Homo sapiens: one gene and its partners. The protein of the gene in region 2 purifies or fractionates together with the protein of the main gene of each other region. This does not show direct contact. Each region holds a gene or a part of one and is shown on either strand. Other genes may lie near its edges.

Region 1 (7,140 bases), on a different chromosome or scaffold from region 2:
ATAATTATGGAAAATGTGATGAGGACTATCCTTGAGATATTTCAATTAGGTTGGTACAAATGGAAAGAAATAATGCTAAGTGTTGTCATTCAACTCTGCAGGGGCCCAGGGTTGAAGAGCTTCAGGTCCAGTCCTGGTTTTACCTCCAGCCTTGAACAAGTCACTTCCCTCTCTGGGCCTCAGGCTCTTCATCAGATTAGACTAAAACAGTTGTTTCCAGGCTGTATTTTGCAAGCCTTCTAGGGGGAGGAAAATGCAGGAGAAGCTCTCCTTTCATTTGTTTTACATATTGGGGTTCTACTGTAAACCCCTCTAAACACTCCTCAAGGACCCCTTCCAGCTCCTTCATGCAAGGATTCCCCAAGTCCTACTGCCTGGTGATTCGCACCACAGCCCCAGCCTCAGCAGCCCCAAGATACTCTGCAGGCGCATCCCACTGTCTCCTGAGGGCAGGTCTCAACACAAACATAAATCCTAGTCCACCCCTCCCTCTAGGGCTGGGGTCCCCACCCAAGCCATGCCCCTACCCAGTCTCCCTGCCTTTCTCCATTCAGGAGCAATGAGAAAGCATGAAAGAACTTCCTCTCCCATCCCCCTACCCACCCCAGTTCCCAGTGTTTCTTAGACCAGGATATTGCCAAGTGGCTTAGGCAAAATAATGGTCCCCCAAAGATGTCCCCATCCTCATTATCTCTGGAACCTGTGAATCTGCTGGATTACATGGGAAAGGGGAATTAAGGTTGCAGGTGGAATGGAGGTTGCTAATTAATTGTCCTTAAAGTTAGGGAGGAAGCTAACACGGGAAATTATCCTGGATTAACCTGGTGAGCCCAATATAATCACAAGTCCTAAGTGGAAAGAGGCAGAAACCGGAGAATCAGAGAGCTTGAGAAAAGTGTGAAAAAGACTGGGCCCAACCTTGCGGGCCTTGAAGATGGAGGTAGCAGGCCAGGAGCCAGGGGATGCCAGCTGCCTCTGGAAGCTGGAAAAGTCGATGAGACGGATTCTCCTCTACAGCCTCTAGAAGGAACACAGCTCTGCTGACTTTGATTTTAGATCAGTGAGGCCTATTTTAGACATTACTCCTCCACAACTACAAGATAATATGTTTGTATTGTCTTCAGACCCCACAGTTGTGTTATTTGTTACAATAGCAACAGGAAACTCACATGCTAAGTGAGGTATTAAGGCAAGTGGCTCAAGGCTGAATGTAGGGAACTGGCTGAGACAGCCTGCTGAAGACAGAGGCTCACTCTTGCTGAATTATTAATTAATTAGCTCACTCAAATCTATTTATTCAGTACCTTACTAGGTGCCAGACATTATTCTAGGTACTAAGGATGTACAGTAAATAAAAGGGACAAAAATCCTTGTCCCCAGGAAGCTTTATTCTAGCAGAGGAAACAGACAATAAATAAGTAAAATCTATTGTACATTGACTAGTGATAAGTGCTAAGGAGAAGAATCAAGCAGGGAGTTACTGTCTAGATCCCCCTGGCTCCAGGGCTCTGTTGCCCTGACCTGCGCATGGGCTCCAGACTAGTTCCTTTAGGAGGGAGGACTTCCTCTAGTCTGCTGCTTCTGCAACTCAGCCATCCTGTTCCTCCTGTTCCTGGGCCCACACCCTGTGTGCTGGAAGTGCATGAGGCAGGTCCCCACACAGTCCTGGGCCAGCCCCAGTCCACAGCTTCCTTTCCCAATAGGAGCAGCCACTGTGACATACATACTTGCCCTGAAGTCAAATCAACACCCACCATGATGTCAAGAAGAGACCAGATCTCTTTCTCCCCTGCCTGACATAGTCAAGGAGACAAACTGCACCCACTCATGGGATCCAGCCTCCTGTCTCATTCCCCCTCCCCCATCCTGATCCCAACAAGAAATGTGTTTGTATTTCCCCAGGAGCTGATGGTTAGGACTGCTGAAACATCAGAGAGGCACATCCTTTTTTTTTCTTTTTTTTCTTTTTGAGAGGGATTCTTGCTCTGTCACGAGGCTGGAGTGCAGTGGCGCAATCTTGGCTCACTGCAACCTCCGCCTCCCGGGTTCAAGTGATTCTCCTGCCTCAGCCTCCTGAGTAGCTGGGACTACAGGCACGTGCCACCACACCCAGGTAATTTTTATACTTTTTAGTAGAGATGGGGTTTCACCATGTTGGCCGGGATGGTCTCGATCTCTTGACCTCATGATCCTCCCACTTCGGCCTTCCAAAGTGCTGGGCTCATAGGCGTGAGCCACCACGCCCAGCCAGGCACGTCCATTTTTAGAGGTTTGGACACACAGAACACATCTTCCCCCCTCGCTTCCTATTGAGACCTCTTTCCCGTTTCTCTGAGTTTCCAGGACAGAAAACTTCCTTGGGAAATCACCCCTTCATGTGAACAGGCCAAACCATGCAGTGGCTTCCAATCAGATTGAGGCAGGGGCCTTTCCCTACATCACCCCTCCCACCCAATCTGGACATCAGGGTCTCTGATACTGTCAGATGCTTCGGGAGAGAGGAAGAGGAAGAAGGAGAAACCAAGAAAGCCAAAGAATGTAATTCGCCCCACCTTGTTCGCCCACTTTGTCCCTCACCCACTGGGCCGCCGCCTTGATGCTTTCGCTCTTGGTGACATCCAGTAGGGTGGTCTGCAGCCGATAGGAGGTATCCCGCTGAAGTTTCTGGGATCCCTCCTCAGTGAAGCAAGCAGCCAGCACCTGCATGCCCCGATCAACCAGCTGTTTGGCCAGCAGGTTCCCGAAGCCAGAGTCACAGCCTGTGATGAAGACGTACTTCTCTGAGAGGTTGCCAACCAGATTGCAGTTCTTGAACCAGCGATACATAAATGAGAGGTCTGTGAGGGCCGCCATAGGGCAAGGGGAATGTGATGGCCAAGAGGGACTGGGCTCAGGAGACAGCAGGGAAGAAGCTGGTCCTCTGAGCCCTAGCAGGCAGTCTGCAGGAAACCACCTGGAAGAAGAACTCTCCTTCCTCCCACAGCTTGCAACAAATCTAGGTCCCTGGGTGAGCCACGCTGTAATTTTTATAGGTGGATGCATCACCACAGCAATTAGCCCAGATGCAAGAAATTCAAGTCCAACCTGAAGCCTTGTCACCTCTGACAGCCCTGGTAGCTGCCTCCCTCTCTCCCCCTGCCCTGATGGGTAAAGCTGCCAAGAATTGGAAATAATCCACTTGTAATGTTGGTGATGAGTGGTGGCTCACCCAGGCGGTGTAAGGCAGGCAAATGAAAGATGAGGACTCACCCCAGACAGCTCCCCTAGAAATCCTGTCCCCACCCTGCCCCCAACCCAGCCTGGGGATTTTGGTCTCCAGGGATCAAAATCATTTGTCGTGAGTGCAGGTATGTAAATAAGTTTATTTTCAGGGAAAATACTCAAGACAAATTTATTAATGTAAAACAAACAACATTGGTTCTGTACCTTCCAAACCCCAAGAGAAACAAGTCGCAGGTCATCAGCTCTCTGGAATTCTTAGGTAAGTCTCCATCATGAGAGAGGATGAAAAGCAATGGATTTCTCCTAGGGTGGATGTACCTCCATTGTCCTGAGGCTAGAGGCAGCAGGGCCCTCCTATAGGGGAGGCTGGCATGTGAAGCTTAGCCACCAGAAAGCAGAAAGACCTGGGGGACTCAGGCCTGACACCCTGTGGGGGTCATACTCAGGTCACCAGTAAGCAGCCCTGGGCAAGATGATGAGGAGGGATCATGAGTTCACTGGGCAGCTGAGGGAATTGTCTGGGCAGAGGCCTTGACTGTAAGAGGGGATGAGATATAGGAGGAGCAGAGAACTGGGGCCAGAGACATAGAAAATTCTCAGGGTCGGGACTTGGAGGAGAAACAGAGATTCTAGGCAATTTAGCAAATAATTTACAGAAAGCTAAGAGGTAAGGTGGTAAAGGAAAGGAAATAAGGAAACCAGAGGTGTGAGTAGTGAGGGGCCACACCCAGAATTGCATAAGATGCAGGGAATGATGCTGGAGCCTCTGTGGTTCTTTGGATCAACATCTAGGGTCACCATTCCTTGGGATGAGCCTGGTCCTAGCTCACACCTTCATGGCTTAGCGAGTCTGACACAGAAATGGGACCACAAAGTTCTCTAGTGTGAAGGGACAAAGGATGTATCTCTGTGATCCACCATTTGCCAAGTCTGACCAGCGTGGAATCACATAAAGCAGGTGTCACCCTGGGAAAGCCCCGCAGGGTTTGGCCGTTCCTTAACAAAGTAGGGGAGGGGGCCAGATTATGAACCCACCCCCAAAGAGCAGACCTAAAGCTTATAGGGGATGGAGGTGGGAAATGGTAGAAAGCAAACCACACCTACTTCATAACCAACCTGAGGCAGAGCACCTCCTATGCGGGATCTGGGAACAATCTCCCAGTCTCTGTCTGCCTCCTGGGTGAATGAACAGAGAAGTCTTGGCTGAAACAGGTCAGACCATGTCACTCAAGACTGAGCAGGTCCGGGGCATTGGGTATCCCAGTCCTTGAGGACACAGGTGAGGTCCAGGAGTTGGGTCTGACTTAGCATAAGGATAACTCAGAACTGCCCCAGCACAGGCCTGGGCCTGACTCAGCACCTCCTGGGCCTCTATGCTGGCAGTGTTCCCCTGGCCTCAAACTAAACACACAGTCCATGAGGGTGGGGGGTGTGAGGGAGGTAGGACCACATAGAAGGCTCTTCTTCCCAGGGCTAGAAATGCCTCCCTCTCTCAGATGACAGCATTCCTTGCCAAGCTGGCCCCTAAGGTCTGATAGGTCAGGTTGGTAGCTGCACTCCCCATCCCCACCCCATGCACACAGGTATCTCAGAGGAGAGGAGCCCTCTCCTCTGCCAGGCCATTTCCCTCCAGTGGGAGAGCATAGACTGCTGAGGTCCAAGACACACCCTGATGAGGTAGACAGGAGGAAGAGCAGGTGTGGGCTCACCCACCCCCAGTTGCTCAAGACCTTCCACAAGTGTGGATTCTTCAGGTTGACAGGTGGGCCATGAAGCTCAGAGCCCAAGGAAGTGGGATGCCATTATCTGTGATTGGGTCTCCCTTCCTAAGCAGCAAAATGTGGTTCTTTCCTCCTAATATCACCAGAGTCCTGAATAACGTCCCAGAAAAAAACTAGAACAGAGGTGAGGGAAGTGAGGTACATGACCCTGAACTTGAGAGCTCCCTCCCACCACTCTATTTCTCACCCCATGAAACAGCACCCCTCCCAAGTGCAATGATGTTAAAGTGAGGGCCGGTCACTGAGTGCTACAAAGAGGTCGCTACAAAGTGCTACAAAGAGGCCTGCCAGTGCCTTTGTGACATGTCATTGCTTCCTTGTCCCTCTGTGCACTCCTGTGACCCCAGGCTACTTGATTCACTCCTGGAAAGGAAACAATTGCCCCTCACCTTGGTGGCAGAAAGGGCTGAGACAGGGCAGGGATAATCCAACTTCTCTCTTCAATTTCCTCCTGAGTTCATCCCTCTTATCCCCAGATCCCCATGAAGGCACCTGCCTCCTCCTCCCTCTTGTTCACAGCCCATGCTCCCCTCAGACTAGAAGGCAACTTGCTGCACATGGCTGCACTTTTTAGCTTTTGCTCTAGAACTAAAGTAACCAGATGGTTTTTTGAGGGTCATGGTTTCAAGAGGGTCAAACATTGGTTCCTGTGTCCTCTGTCCGAATCCCTATTGAGAACACCACTGCCAGCCAATGGTTTTAAGAGGGTCAAACATTGGTTCCTGTGTCCTCTGTCAGAATCCCTATCGAGAACACCACTGCCAGCCAATGCCCCCAGAGCTGGCACCTGAGGTCTAGGGGTCAGGCTGATGGCTGCCCTGTCGCCCCACACCTTATCCACAGGTATATTCAGAGGAGCCCCCATCCACTTCCTCCAGGCCATTTCCATCATGGAGAGAGTGTAATAGACTGGCCAGGTTGATGCACACCTGGGGAAGAAGCAGGAGGCAGAGAAGGTGTGGGCTGTGGATCCTTCCCCTCCTCACACGCTCCCATTGTGTAGACTCCTCAGAATTGGCCAAGAGACTCAAAGGCAACAGGACACCTATGAGCGTTACTGGGTCCCAATCTTTAGAAGAACACCTTGGTTCTTTCCTCCTATGTTGCCAGTCCTGAGTGATATCTCAGTGGAATTCTGTGGAGGGCATGAGGAAGAAGCTGGGATAGGCATCCAAATGGCAAGAGTGCTCCCTCCCACCACACCATTACTCTCCCCAAGACACATCACCTCACCCAGATCACCCAGCTCCACCCAACCATGCACCCCAGTCTTGGATTCACAGGGGCTTAGCCAGCCTTGGAGAGCCCCAGTTGAGCGTGACGTCCATAGGAAGGTAGGCATGTCGCTCATGGGGAGGTAGAGAAGATTGGTGTCTCAGCCAGCTGAGTAGTGAGCGCTCCATGCAGTGGGTCAACAAGGATAGATTCGTACTGCATTTTGCCCAAAGCCTTCTAGATGCTTTTCTGATGCATGTTAAGGATGAGGAAAGATCCTTAAAGTACTAGCACATCCCTTCCCTCCCATTTAGAGCTCTGAATTAGGAGGACAGTGTCTAAGAATTCCAGGCCCCCCAAATGATATGCCTCAAGTCTAATCCATCCATATTCCCCAGAGAGTGCCCCAACCTTCACCCAAGGAACATCCGTTTCACTCTAAGCCCCCTCTGCCTCTCTTTTTGAGATATCTGGACTCATAAATGGAAGGTCTCTACTAACAGCCTAAGAATATGAAAATCAGCTATCTCTAAACCCAGCTGCCCATGAGCCCACTGGTAGCCACTGTCTCTGACTTTAGTTTCCTCTTCAAAATAATGAGGGATTCAGATGAGGCAGTGGTCCCAATTATAGAAAGCTTGGATGCTTCCTTTAGGTGAACAGTTGACCACATGGCACCCTGGGAATGGGGATAAATGTCCTCACTTTTTTGGGGAGGCAGAGTTTGGAGGACAGATTCTCATACTGTTGGAGGCACTAATGATGGACCCAGACTTCTAGACAAGGATTTCTTTATCTCCCCACTGTCCACAGCTCACTCACGGGATATCAGAAACTTCTCCCCATACGTCTCCTTGACCTCGGGGCTGGCCTAGTCCGACAGCTCCTTGAGGTTCTGTAAATGCCTCTCAGAGCCGGCCAT
Region 2 (7,101 bases):
GGCTCATGTCTGTAATCCCAGCACTTTGGGAGGACAAGGCAGATGGATCACTTGAGGCCAGCAGTTCGGGACCAGCCTGGCCAACAGTAAAACGCCGTCTCTACTAAAAATACAAAAAATTAGCCAGTCATCATGGCGGGTGCCTGTAATCCTAGCTACTCAGGAGGCTGAGGCAGGAGAATCACTTGAACCTCGGAGGCGGAGGTTGCAGTGAGCCGAGAGCCTACCATTGCACTCCAGCTTGGGTAACAGGAGCAAAACTCTGTGTCAAAAAAATAAAAATAAAAATAATGAATGAATGAATGAATGAATGAAGTGAACTCCCCACCAGGTGATTCTCTTGCTAGATGAGAAATGCCTTGGTTTAACTCTTGGCTTCCCTAACAACTACCTGTGACTGTGGCCTCGAATAATTATTTCCCAGCTTTGGTCTGCAGCATCTTTGATGACAAGGTAAATTGAGATTAGAGATGCATTGCATGAAAAGTAGGGATTCTGGACCTTGGCACTATTAACATTTGGGGCGGGACAGTCTTTTGTGGTTCAAGGTAGTCGTATACTCTGTAAGATGTTTAGCAGCATTCCTGGCCTCCACCCACTAGATGGCAGTAGCACATCCTCCCTCATTTGTGACAAAACTGTCTCCAGTCATTGCCTAATGTCCTGTGGGGAGCAATCACACCTCTGTAAGAACTACCGGTATGAGGCGCCCAGCACAGTGCCTGCCACCTATTAGGTTTTCTTCTGAGGACCAGTGAGGAGAAGGGGCTGCTTTTCATGGAAGTCTGAGGCCATCATGAACCTTCTGCTCATAAGCCCACTTATGCAGATTTAAAGCCTGTGTGCCTGTGAGTTTACAGGTCAAAGATCTGCGGATGGAAAGTAAATTCCCCAAAAGATTCTGACCCACTGTTTTTGCACCATTTTCAATATTGCCAGTCTCCAAGTCTAGCTATCACCCCTCTTTGGTTTGGAGAGTATACAGGCCCTTTCTCTCTCTTTCTACTTCACTGCCTGCTTTATTTCCTGCCCAAACTACTTATGCAATAATGGCTTCTTAACTGGTGATCCCATATCTAATGACATTCTGCCACAGCTATTAGAAAACATTTTCCACAAAGGACCAGATGATAGATCATTCAGTCTTGGTGGGCTGGGCAGTCTCTGTCACAGCTATCCAACTCTGCCTTTGTAGTACAAAAGCGGCTACAGACAGTAAACAAATGAGCATGGGTGTGTTCCAATAAAACTTTATTTACAAAAACAAAATTTGGGCCAGGTTTGCCTCATGAGTCGTTTGCTAGGTCCTCTCTTCATCCCCCTACCCTATCTCCTGCTGCCAGACTAGGCTTTACAGAGCCCAGAGGTCATTTTTCCAGCACATATTCACTTGGCAAACATTTATAAATGTCCACTTTGCAGCTAGTATGCTGTTGGACCATGGAGATGGGACAGGGAATGTGGCACAGTGTCCTGTTTTCAGGGAGCTCACAGACAAATAATCAGGCTGTGGCAGTGCTTGGTGCTGTGTGAGCTGTGGCCACCAGCTGCAGTGGAGCAGAGGGGATGGGCAACTGACCAGGTTTCAGCATCAAGGAAAGCCTGCTGGAGGAGGGACTCTTGATGCGGACTGAAGGAAGAGTAAGGACTAGTTGGGCAAGGGGGTAGGTGAGGCTTTCCAAGCTGAGGGGCAGTAAATGTGAAGACTTGATGGGGTTGAGAGGATGGAGCTCTTCTCCCTTAACTGACCATAAGCTTCTGGAAGGCATGACCCTTCTCTCTTCAATACAGAGATAGCTCGAAGTCTACAAGGAGCCTTAGCTCTTTTGCAAGAACTAGTAGGAATGGGCCACTTTTCCTGAGCTTGCTCTGCACTGATGAAAAGCCCCAGGGTTATATATGTTCCTGGTGAAAGTATCTTCTGCTGGAGGTGGAGGAGGGAAACCTTTGTCTTCATATGATCATTGTCTGTACCACTGCTTATGTGGTTATTCTGTGCTTCCCTGTAAGAGTTTACACAAGTCTACCTTTCACTTCAGAGATGGGCCAGGTAGAAGGTTGGGGAGGCAGAAACAGATCTTTGAGCAGAAGCTGCCTCTGGCACAGTGAATTTCTCATCAGATGATTCCCAAGATCCCAACATTTCTGGGGCTTTTCATCACCCATAGAGAAGTGGCATCGCTATGAAATTTCTGTACAGAAGGATATGTTCCTTGAACAGCCCAGAAAAAGAAAAGATGCTAGTTTAGTTATAAAACAGCAGAAGTTTTTTTTTTTTTTTAATTAGTCAAGACCCTTTTGGTTGTAAGTAACAGAAAAAGTAGCTTAAAAAATGAGACAAAGGGTACAAAGTGTCAGTTTTGCAAGACAGATACATTCTGGAGATTTAAGTACAGCATGGAAACAAGAGTTAAAAATACTGTATTATATACTGGAAGTGTGCTAAGAGGATAGATCTTAAATTAAATCTCTCCACACACACATACACACACACACACACACACACACAAATGGAGATCATGTAGAAGTGATGGATATGCTAATTACCTGGAATGTGGTCACTTCACAATGTATACATATGTCAAAACATCAAGTTATACACCTTACATGTATAATTTTTATGTTAATGGTATCTTAGTAAAGCTGTTAAAATATGGGACATTTACTGACTTGTGTAACTACAACAAACAGGGATGGTGCTGACTGCGGGTAAAGCTGGATTCAACACTTCAAATGACGTCACTGGGACTCAGTAGAAACCTCTCTGTTCCTCAGTTTCTTCTCTTCATTTTCCTCTAGGTTGGCCTCACGTGTAGGGAGGTCCCCTTCAAGTGGCAGTTCGTTGTTGTTGTTGTTGTTGTTGTTGTTGAGACGGAATCTTGCTCTGTGGCCCAGGCTGGAGTGCAGTGGTGCACTCTCAGCTCACTGCAACTTCCACCTCCCACATTCAAGTGGTTCTCCTGCCTCAGTCTCCGGAGTAGCTAAGATTACAGGCATGTGCCACCATGCCCGGCTAATTTTTGTATTTTTAGTAGAGGCAGGGTTTCACCATGTTGCCCAGTCTGGTCTCGAACTCCTGACCTCAAGTGATCCACCCACCTTGGCCTCCCAAAGTGCTGGAATTACAGGCATGAGGCAACATGCCCACCCTAAGTGTCAGTTCTTGGCAGCTCCAGGCTTATGATGTTTTTACAGCTGCCCATCACCGTGGAAAGAGAACTTCTTCCCCAAAACTACAGCAAAATCCCAGGGTGACTGGGACTCAGTGGTGTGACTAGGGCTTAACGCACTAACGGACTCACTAGATAGATGTGCATGAACGCAAATCCATGGGACTATCTCAGTGGGACCATCTGATTGGCCAGGCTGATGTCCTATGGCTCATCTCGTAGCGACTGGGAGCTGGGTTCAACTGTATCTGCACCATACAGGCTGAAAGTGGGACTGTCCCCCAAAAGGAAACTGGGGCTTTGTTGAAGAAACAGGAGTGGAGACAGACCAGCAGTATCACTGCATGTCTTCTTTGGCTTCCCAAGGATGGACAAGGTTAACTGCTCATGGATAGCAACTCAGCCTCAACATAGGCACACCCTCCATGGCCCCAGTGCTATGGGAAAATGTTAGAAAGAGAAAGAAATGCTCGTGCCCTTTTGTTTCCAGTGGCACAGACATTTGGCGAAATTTGTCTGGAGGAGGGAAGAGCCTGATGGGAATGATTTACTTGTAAAATGTTTAAACTTATCCTAAGCTTAGTTCTCTTCCAAGTGTCATCTTTAACATTCTAATTAAGGTCCCTTCTAAACAAATGCACCAGCTCCGTGTGCTGCTCTGAGAACAAACTTTTTTTTTTTCCTCTCTTCTTTCTGTCATCATGTTTTTGCTGCACTCAAATTGCTTTAGAGAAAGAGGATTTCGGATGTTGGTGGCAAGTACTGAAGAGATAAGGAGAAATTCTGATATTTTTGCCCTAGTATCATTATATGAGGGCCAAAGTCACATCTAATTGACCACAGACAATAGGAGAGGCAGCTATTTGGTGTGCCTAATTGCTAAGTTTTTTTCCTCGCTCTGTCTTTCTGACTGTGTGATCCCATCTCCTGAGACCATGGAAAGTTTAGACCTTTGGGTTACAATTTCTTATGCCGTGTGTGTGTGTGTGTGTGTGTGTGTGTGTGTGTGTGTGTGTGTGTGTGTTGTGGTAGAACTGTGGAGGAGGAGGTAAAGAGAGAGAGCTGTTTCCTGAAATGGAAGCATTTGTATTCAGGTTTTTGTTGTGTGTGTTTTTAAAATTCTTCTGAGTTGGCTGTAATTGTCACACTGCCTGTTTTGCCTAGATCTGAAGAATGAATTGTTATATAATACTCTGTGCTCATAAAAAAATAAGGCAGGGAGGGAGAGGCATTGACTAATGAGACTGAGAGTTAAATCCAATATTTTTCAGAAATGCTTAAAATGGGGATGTCAGAGAGGACAGTCTTTGTCCAAATTAGGCCCTGAATTTGTATCAGCTGCTTCATTTTGGCACTGGGGACATCATACACGCATACACACACACAGACACACACACACACACACACACAACATAACACACAACCACACAGACACTGGGACCATTAAAAGGATACTCCCTATTCCCATTATGTGAGCCAAGTCACATAAAACTTTGATTAAATTCAAATGCTTACATAAATTGTCTCTCCTCTCAAGAACACACACGTTCAATTTAGTCTCTCTTGGCACTTTAAGTATCAAATCAAGGTTCTGCTGTCACTGCAGACAACTAAATGCTCACAGCTTCCAAAATGGGAATGAAATAAAAAGGATCTGCCAAAAAAAAAAAAAAATCAATCTAGTAAAGCCACAGACCCTCATGTCTTTGAATATTAGGCTGGGTGGCTTGGAAAAAGCGACTTTATCTTTATCTTTCCAAGCCTCGGTTTCTGCATCTGTAAAATGGGGAGAAGTGATGGTTACTGTTTCCTTATAGGGTCTGGTGAAGATGACCTGAGATTGGTCCATCTCAGGCTGGTGGCACCATGGTGACCCCTAGAAAGTACGCGGGGCACGATCGTCCTGGGATCTGGGAGGAAGGTTTCTGCATGGTGGCTCCTCATGACGTTCTCTCCCTCTCTGCACCTTTTTGATTTTTCAGGGTAATCAGGAAGCAGCCGCTGCCCCTGACACAATGGCTCAGCCTTACGCTTCGGCCCAGTTTGCTCCCCCGCAGAACGGTATCCCCGCGGAATACACGGCCCCTCATCCCCACCCCGCGCCAGAGTACACAGGCCAGACCACGGTTCCCGAGCACACATTAAACCTGTACCCTCCCGCCCAGACGCACTCCGAGCAGAGCCCGGCGGACACGAGCGCTCAGACCGTCTCTGGCACCGCCACAGTAAGTGGACGTGTTTGCTACGGGTGGGAGGTTATGGGGAGGCGCCCCCAGCCCTGGTAATGGCAGCGGGGGTGCACCCCCATCTACCCAGGGACTCTGGGAAACAGATCAGTCCCTAAGCCCACCCTCATCATACCAGCTTCCTGAAGTTTACCTCATTTCCATGCATTCATTCTTAGCGTTCATTTAAATCAACGGATTATTAATTAATTTCATTTATTTGTAAAGGGGCACATTTATCAATTTTCTATTCCTATAGTTTTGCCTTTCTAGAATGTCATCCCAATGAAATCTCATTTTTTTGGAAAAAAAAAATTTGATGTAAGATAATTTTTCTTCAAGTCTTACGGAGGCTGGGTGTGGTGGCTCATGCCTGTGATCCCAGCACTTTGGGAGGCCGAGATGGGAGAGTCGTTTGAAGACAGGAGTTCGAGAATAGCCTGGGCAACAAAGTGAGACCTCATCTCTACAAGAAATTTAAAATTTAGCTGAGTGTCATGGTGCATGCCTGTAGTCCCAGCTACTTGGGAGACTGAGGTGGGAGGATGGCTTGGGGCCAGGAGTTTGAGGCTGCAGTGAGCTAAGATTGCTCCACTGAACTCCAGCCTAGGTCACAGAGTGAAACTCTGTCTCTAAATAAACAAAAATAAAGTCTTTGTGGAATTATAATTTACATACCTTAAAATTAGTATATTTTTAGGTGTACAGTTCACTGATTTTTAGCATATTTACGGAGTTGTGCGATGATTGCCGGATGCATCTAATTTCGGAACATTTCCATCAGCCTAAATACAAATCTTGTGCCCCTTTGCAGCCACTCCTCATTCATACCTCAGAGCTCTGAACCTCGCTTCTTTACCTTAGCCTAATACATTTGAGATTCATCCAGGTTGCGGTGTTTGTCCCTGGTTTCTTCATTTTTATTGCTGGACCAAAGGGCAGGGGCTAGAAAGAGGCAGGGTGAGAGAATTTTGATGAATAAGGGAACTGTCCTGTATCTTAATGGTGACGGTTACATGACTTTATACGCCATAAAGAGTAAATTTTATTGCGTACAAATGATGAAATGGATTAGAAACAGGCATGTAAACAGAAACATTTTATCATCACTGTAAATGAAAACTGGTGTTTTGATCATTAATCAAATATAACTCTAAATGAAAATATTTATCATAAAATTAAATAATGTTCATTTGTGTGCCACCTAAAGTAATCATGCATACCACAAAACCTGTATGGAACATGCATTTGGGAACCTTTTTCTGCAGAATTCTTTAGAAGCTTGGGAACCCCAATCCTGTCGTCTGGAACATTTTTTGAGTGTAAGGCAATTCTGCCTCTTCGTCCTGTCCCAAGACCTCAGGAAAGCAAGTATTTGTGAAGGAGTTTATGGCTTTGAAGCATGATACATTTCCTGTGATAAAAGAAAACACTGACTAACTTTGCTACTTGCCACCTCATTCATTTGGAGGCTAGTTTTGACGTTTTGTTTTTGTTTTTGTTTTTGTTTTTTTGAGATGGGGTCTCACTCTGTTGCCCAGGCTGGAGTGCGGTGGCGCGATCTCGGCTCACTGCAAGCTCCACCTCCCAGGTTCACGCCATTCTCCTGCCTCAGTCTCCCGAGTAGCTGGGACTACAGGCACCCGCCACCATGTCCGGCTAATTTTTTGTATTTTTGGTAGAGACGGGATTTCACTGTGTTATCC
Region 3 (7,693 bases), on a different chromosome or scaffold from region 2:
GATGGGGCACTCTTAAGCTGGGTTTTGAAGGATAAGTAGGTGTTCTCTAGGAGAAAACTGAGAGCAAGAGAAGTATATCAAGGATTTTGCATCCTGGAGAAAGTGAGTGAACAATCTAATGCCTCCAGAAATTGTATATGTGACTTTGGGCTTCTGGTTCTTTAATTGCAAAATGGGAATAACCTATTTCTAAAGCAGTTGTTTCCATCCTGGGAGTGCATTACAATCATCCAGGAGCTTTAGAAATACCTATTTTCAGAACATTCCTCTAGAGATTTTGAGTTAGTTGATGCAGGATAAATCCTGGGTGAGGGTGCCTTTAAGAACTTCTCTCCAGGGGATTTAATGAGTACTCAAGGTTGAGAATCCCACTCCAAAGCAAGTGATTCCCACCTGATGATTCCCAGGTCTTTTAAAGCATTCAGCCACCAGGTATCAAGATGGCTGTAAAGCCACAGTATTAAGGTATTGGAACAGAGACAGACAAGCTGACCAATGGAACAGACTAGAGAATCCAACAGAGCCACACAGGAAGTCACCTGATATGTGACAAGGGCATCGCTACAGTTCAAAGGAAAGGATGATCCTTTCAATGAATGATGAAAACAACAACAACAACAACAAAACACCAGTGGATGTCCATACAGGAAAAATATAAATAGTGACTATTTTACTCAACATACAAAAATTAATTTGAGAAGTCACAGACCTAAATGTGAAAGGTATTAGATTGGACTATATGAAACTATTGGTCTTTAATATTTTTTAACCTCAAAACCCACAAGAATCAAAATGATAAAGCTTCTAGAAGAAAATATATTAATAGTAGACAATCTTTGTGACCATGAGATAGGCAGAAAGTATTAACCATTTTTACAAAATGATAAATGGAACTTCATTAACATTAAGAGCCTTGTTCCTCTAAAATTACCTAGGACAGTACAAAGGCAAGTCACAAGCTGGGAGTGGTACGTGTAATGTCTGTGTCTGATAAAAGGCTCATGCCTGTTTTTAAGCACTTCTACAAATCGACTGAAAAAAGACAACAACTTAAAAACTAAGCAAAGACATGAACAAATACTTCACAAAAGAAGATATCCAAATGGCCAATAAGCAGCTGAAAAGGTGCTCGACATCATTAATCATCAGAAACATGCAAAACAAAACTACAAGAAGAACTCACTACACACCCACTAGAATAGCTCAGATTAAAAGGACCAGCCACACGAGGACGTGGAGCAAGTGGAACTCTCTTATATTGCGGGTGGGTGTGCAAACCGACACCAACGTGTTGATTGGAAAATTGCTTGGCAGGATCTATAAAAGGTAAACATATGCTTACCCTTTGACCCATTCATTGTACCTCAGGGTATATGCCCAACAGGAAATGAGTGCTTGTGGGTTTACCAAGACATGTACTGCAATGTCCATAGCAGCTTTATGTGATAGACCTAAAGTGGAAACAACCCAGATGTCCATTTATAGTAGAGAAGGGAGAGAGAGAAAGAGATTCCTGGCCACCATCCCAGATCATACTTTGCATTTCCCTGGGTGTCCCCACTCTTCTTTGGTTTCCACAGGATCCCCAGTTGATGCTTGTGACAGACAGCTATGGGAGCCAGTGACCAAGAGTGTGAAACACTGCAAAGCCCAAATCCCACTAGAACAAATTATACTGTACCTCCAAGCAATAAGGCAAAGACTGAGTAAATGCAATGTATTTTCAGTCATTGAATTCAACTCCAATTGGGGAGCTTAATCAATAAATGATTTAAAATTAATAATAATTGATTTTGAAAGAAAATATTTTTAAGCAATCTCCGGTAAGATCCTAGGTTACCCTAAAAAGCTTCTAGTACAAAATGTTGAAAATCTTTCCACACAAAAATCTAAACAAGTAAGAAATAAAAGGAGAGAAATAGAAAATTTAGAAAATTTTTTTTTAATGGGAAGCATTCTGTAAATAGTAAAAAATTCAAGATGGCATTTCAGAACATTCGAGAAAAGGTGAACAATTCCATAAATGCTATTAGGAAACAAACAAATCATTTCAAAAATAAAATTACAAGTGTTGGAATAAAACCTTTTCATAATGTTAGAGTGAAAAAGAACTTCCTAAGTGTGATACACAAGCCAGAAACCATGTAGGAAAAGATGGCATATATGGATATACCATCTTTTTGCAACGTGTTAAAACTCTACAGAATATGTAAAATTTGGAATCACAAATTGGAACATGTGTACAAGATAGAGAGCTAATGTTCTTAACAATTAAGAGTTCTTATATATATCAATAAGTAACCACATGTGTTTCTCAATCAGCAAAAAGTAAAAAATTTGGGTAAATATGCATTGAAACATTGTGGGTGGGGGCCAGCTTTGATTTTCCTCATCTTATTTTCTTCTTTGTCTTTGTCTCTGCAGAACAGGGTACTTCCATGCACATATTAGTAGATACGGTTATTCATAGACATTATGTATTTTTCATACCAACTTTGCAAGTTTGGGTGCTGCTAGACCCATTTTTACACATGAGAAATCTGAGTTTCCTATAGCTGCACAGTTAGCAGATTCAGGACTCAAAAATCAGGTCTTCTGGTTCTGAATCCCTTTTTCCATGGATAGCTTTCTGGTAGACCATAAATGAAAGCATGGCCACAGCATCTTGGCAGCCAGCACAGACCCATGGAACTCTTGGCCAGACTGGTGATCCAGCCCTAGGGCTAGGCATGAGAAGGACGCAGAATGTCTGTCTATTTGAGTGATCACCTTGGCCCTTGGTTGTCTTCTCTAAGACAGAGAAACAGACAACACACACACACACACACACACACACACACACACACACACACACACTGCCCCTTGGACTAACCTCACCTCCCCAGTTTCTCCTTTCCCCTCAGGTCAGTCTTCCTTGGCCTTCCCCAGTTGTTGCTGATCCCAGCCTCCTAGTCCTTTTTCGGTCCTGGTCCTGCAGCCTTCAGGTTCCAGGTATGTTCCTCTAGGCTCCCAGCCCCACAAGCCTTATCTACAAACTGGGTGGACTTCTGCCCAACGACCTACTAAGCCTGCCTCTGCCACCTCCACCCCTTTCCCAGGATCAGCCTGGCCAACTGGCCCTGCCAAGTGTCTCACTCAGAGAGCAATGCGTCTGGGAGTTCCCTTCCTCACCCCTTGGGAAAGATCAGGCCTACTTTTTCTCTCCCATCCCAAATAGCAAGGGGCACTGTGCTAGGTACACCCAAGGTGCTCTGTAGATTCACTGATGAGGGCCTGGCTTGCTAGGACCTGAGTGTTTGGCACCCAGTAAACCTCATAAAAGTGAGTGCACCAGAAACCAGAGTGACACACGCCATCCCCTCCCAGCTCCACAGCCCTGATCCCTGTGATCATCTTTGAGCAGAATCGTCCACCCCAGATTCCTTCCCTGGGACAGGACAGGAATGGGTGTGGGCACCCTGGCACTGCTATAGAATACCAGCCGCCTGGCACAGATGTTCACATGGCCCTCTCTCACCTCCCAGGTGCAGCCTGGGAGCAGGCAGCCCATCCATCCAACCCCACCCCACTCCCGAGCTCTGGGACGTCTCAGGGCCTGGGCCTGTGGTCTGGGTACCAGACATAGGTGACTCATAATGCACCTGGTGGCTGGAGAAGCCATCCCTTCCTCTGGTTCTCAGTGTACTCACCTGTACAATGGGCAATAGGAGACTGCATTGGATCTGTGGTTGCCTGAGAGAGCCAAACTATTGGAAGTCATGCTGTCAATCAATTTCACTTAAAATAATATAGACCCAAGTCCGTGCTAAATGTCATTCAAGCCAGATCTAGATGCTGGTAGAAGAGCAGAACAACAGAGGATATAAAAAAAGAGCATTTGCTCAACATTACTAACCATCAGGGAAATGTAAATGAAAACCACAATGAGATACCACCTTACTCTTACAAGATGGCCATAATTAAAAAGTAAAAAATAAAAATAAAAAAAATAGATGTTGGCATGAATGTGGTGAAAGGGAACACTTTTACACTGCTGGTGGGAATGTAAATTACTACAACCCCTATGGAAAACAGTATGGAGATTCCTTAAGGAACTAAAAGGAGAGCTACCATTTCATCCAGCAATCCCACTACTGGGTATCTACCCAGAGGAAAAGAAATCATTATATGAAAAAGACACATGCACACACATGTTGCGTAATTTCAAAGATATGGAACCAACCTAAGTGCCCATCAAACAATAAATCCATAAAGAAAATGTGGTATATACACACCATGGAATACCACTCAGCCATAAAAAGGAATGAAATAATGTCCTTTACAGCAATTTGGATGGAGGTGGAGGCCATTATTCTAACTAAAGTAACTCGGGAATGGAAAACCAAATATTGCATGTTCTTGCCCATAAGTGGGAGCTAAGCTGTGAGCACAGGTATAAGAATGATATAATGGACTTTGGGGACTCAGGGAAGAAGGTTGGGAGGGGGTGGTGAGGTATAAAAAACTACATATTGGGTACAGTGTACACTGTTCAGGTGATGGGTGCACTAAAACTCAGAAATCACCGCTAAATAACTTAATCCAAGTAACCAAAAACCACCTGTACCCCAAAAACTCTTGAAATTTAAAAAGAGCATTTCAGAAAAATATTTATGGAAGGAAAATCGCAAACTGCAAAAAAGCCCATAATTTAATGTTTTTCTGCATTTTCAGGTAGCCCACCAATTTGATTTCAGCAGCATGTGTACTTCTGTGCACACCTCATGTACACACACACACACACACATATATATATACACACACACATTTAATTCTTACAAGTCTGTGAGGGACCATTGTCACACTATACAGATGAGAAAGCTGAGGTTTGGGATAGTGAGTCATCTGTCAAATGTCACACGGTTATTTAATGGATGTGCAGCTTCATAAGAATTTCTTAATATAAAAGCAGAAAAAAAATATGTGGATACAACTAGTGCAGAAACTTTGGGAGAAATCAAGGAAATTCTGGAACTGTCTGCATGCCTCACATAAGGCTGCGGCTGTTAAATGCTGGCTCCTGGGATGGCTCACTCTAGTATTTGTCGGGTTGGTTCGTGCAGCCCAGAACAGGAACCGACACCACCTTCAGTTTTCCATCTCTGAGCCATTCGACTTCTCCTTTGGAAGGTGTCCCACCCACCTCTCTCACCTGCCTTTCCCTCATCCTCCTTTCCTGCTTCCTTCCAAAGAGGCAGAACTTGAGTTGAAAAGCAGATTGAATGTCTATAATGTACCAGGCAGCAAGCCAGGTGTGGGGGAGAGAGAAATAACACAAGTCCTCATAAGCTCACAGACCAGGGAAGGGACAGACACTGGGGGGTCACGCCTGTACTCCTAGCACTTTGGGAGGCCAAGGCAGGTGGATTGCTTGAGGTCAGGAGTTTGAGACCAGCCTGGCCAATATGGTAAAACCCCATCTCTATTAAAAATACAAAAATTAGCTGGGAGTGGTGTCTCGCACCAGTGGTCCCAGCTACTCGGGAGGCTGAGGCATGAGAATTGCTTGAGCCCAGGAGGCAGAGGTTGCAGTGAGCTGAGATTGCACCACTGCACTTCAGCCTGGGTGACAGTGATACTCCATCTCAAAAACAAAACAAAACAAAACAAGAGTTCTGTGGAGGGGTGAGTTCAACACCACTTGCACCCACGAGAGGCAGATATTGAATCAAATCAAGGCCTCCAAACAAAAAAAGCCGCAGCTCCATCCCCCACCCACTCACGTGTCCCCTCTCAGGGGGCATTGTGACATTGAGGCGGAGCACAGGTCCTACAGCCACAGCAAGCTGGGCCACCTCACCCAGGTCACCTCACTTCTCTGTGCCTCAGTATTTCCATCTGCCCAATGGGACTACTGAAGTACCTGCTTTGTTCATTTCATCAGATTGTTAGCAGTGCTATCAAATGCAAAGGCCCATGTGGAGAGGATCAATTAAAACTAATTAGTAGTAATCATAGCAATAGTTATAATAGTTGTTAATAAAATAGTAATTAATTACTATTAATGGGCATTACTAATGATAAACATGATGACAGGGAGCTGATTCTGTTCATCCAAGTCACACTCTGCTCACCATTCTCATCCTCCAGCATCAAGAGTGAGGGTGTTGTGTGCCTAACACTGCTGGAGCCCAGGAGGACAATTCTTGCCTCTCAAATGAAACATGTGTTATCAAGAATGGATCAGACAGCAAAAATCAAATGTTAAGGATGGCTGAGATCCTTGAAATTCAGGAGGAATTTGGATGGGTAGTCAGTAGTTACCCAAATAGGGTTATCTGTTCACATCTAACTACTGACTATTTTGTGTGCTATTATATAGTTAAGGATGGGAAAAGCTCATTTCTGAGCTTTCAGAAATTTGGGAAAACAGAGTGGTTGTCTACTTAAGACCAAGGAAAGGGCCAAGTCACAGAGAAGACGTAGTGAAGAAATACGCAAGCCCACACATCTATTCTCCAAGAATGTTCCACACATTCCCCAGTGGGTTCTATTACCAGCTCAAGCCACTAGCATAAGAATGAGGAGTGATACCGAGGGTAGCTCTGGAAGCAGCCATCCCACGGCTCACCATGCAGGTGGAAGAAGGGAAGTTTCCCTTCAGTCATCCAGGTTTTCAGTTTTCCTTCCAGGATAAGCGAAAGCAGGCTGATAGAAACCAAGTGTGGGCTGGTAAGCAGGTCACCCTTATCTGCAAGGGCATACTCTGAGTTGCCACGGCTTGTTTGCTGATACCAGACAGTCCTCTTACAGAGAACTGCCTTTATAATCCAAGACAAAATGAAGGACAATTACTTTCAGAGAGAGAATACAAAGATGCAAATGGCTGATATCAGATATCTCTAAGCAGTACAAACCAAGAAACAGTAGAGACTCAAGAATCTGAAGCAGAGCGGGAGGACCTGAGAGCGGGAAAAGACTATAGAGAATTCTATGTAGAGACAGAAAATCTGGATTCAGGCTCCATGGCTGCTGTTTCCCAGCCGTGCAACCCTCCTCAAGTTACTTCATCTTTCAGGATCTTGATTTCCTCACCCATAAAACTGAGGAAATGTTTGAGAAATCCATTGGGAGGATAAATTAAAGTAGTGACTGTAAAAGGTGTGGTGTAAACCATAACCGCCCATGCACAGGCTGCTCTGTGACTTCGGAATTTTGCAGGGGTCCCCAAGGGCTGGACCAATGGCTTTCATTTTCCTCCACTCTGGGATGAATTTTTAAAAAATTACTGGGTGCTCAGCTTGAAATCTGCGGTGTTGGGATGAAAACCTAAACACCATACAACTGCTATTGTCTTCCAGTGGTGTTTCCAAATGCCAGAATAACCTGACCAGTGGGACTTCAGCCAATCAGCCCCTCTGCATCACTTCCCAAGACCAAAAATGCTTTCCCTCCTTGGATGAACAGCCTGGAGGTTGCTCCAGTGGCTCCCTGGGGACCTCACAGTCCGAGAAGGGGTATGGGTTTGAGAAGGGCAGCATGGTGCGGGCCTAGACTCCCAAGGCCACCCCACATCTCAGCACATCTATGTCTTAACCTACTCACCTGTGAAATTAGGGCAATCATACCTCCCCACTGTCGAGAGGCTGAGATAATTCGTGCAAAGCCCTGGGACAGTGCCTGGACTGTGCCGCTTAGGTACTCCATGGCGGCT

Evidence for each region. The genes of interacting proteins can lie anywhere in the genome.
Region 1: the proteins of RBFOX1 (region 2) and SDR9C7 purify together in Homo sapiens (affinity purification with mass spectrometry; 2 studies listed by BioGRID and IntAct, with this or other methods). This does not show direct contact.
Region 3: the proteins of RBFOX1 (region 2) and SERPINA12 purify together in Homo sapiens (affinity purification with mass spectrometry; 2 studies listed by BioGRID and IntAct, with this or other methods). This does not show direct contact.

What each region holds. Positions count from the first base shown.
Region 1 is NC_000012.12:56,931,409-56,938,548, forward strand, and holds the start of SDR9C7 (short-chain dehydrogenase/reductase family 9C member 7), read right to left. Parts: upstream 3,001-7,140; 5' UTR 2,854-3,000; coding exon 2,553-2,853; intron 1-2,552. UniProt on the Homo sapiens protein: Plays a crucial role in the formation of the epidermal permeability barrier.
Region 2 is NC_000016.10:7,512,995-7,520,095, forward strand, and holds part of RBFOX1 (RNA binding protein fox-1 homolog 1), read left to right. Parts: intron 1-5,152; coding exon 5,153-5,395; intron 5,396-7,101. UniProt on the Homo sapiens protein: RNA-binding protein that regulates alternative splicing events by binding to 5'-UGCAUGU-3' elements. Regulates alternative splicing of tissue-specific exons and of differentially spliced exons during erythropoiesis.
Region 3 is NC_000014.9:94,506,470-94,514,162, forward strand, and holds the start of SERPINA12 (serpin A12 precursor), read right to left. Parts: upstream 3,001-7,693; 5' UTR 2,873-3,000; intron 1-2,872. UniProt on the Homo sapiens protein: Adipokine that modulates insulin action by specifically inhibiting its target protease KLK7 in white adipose tissues.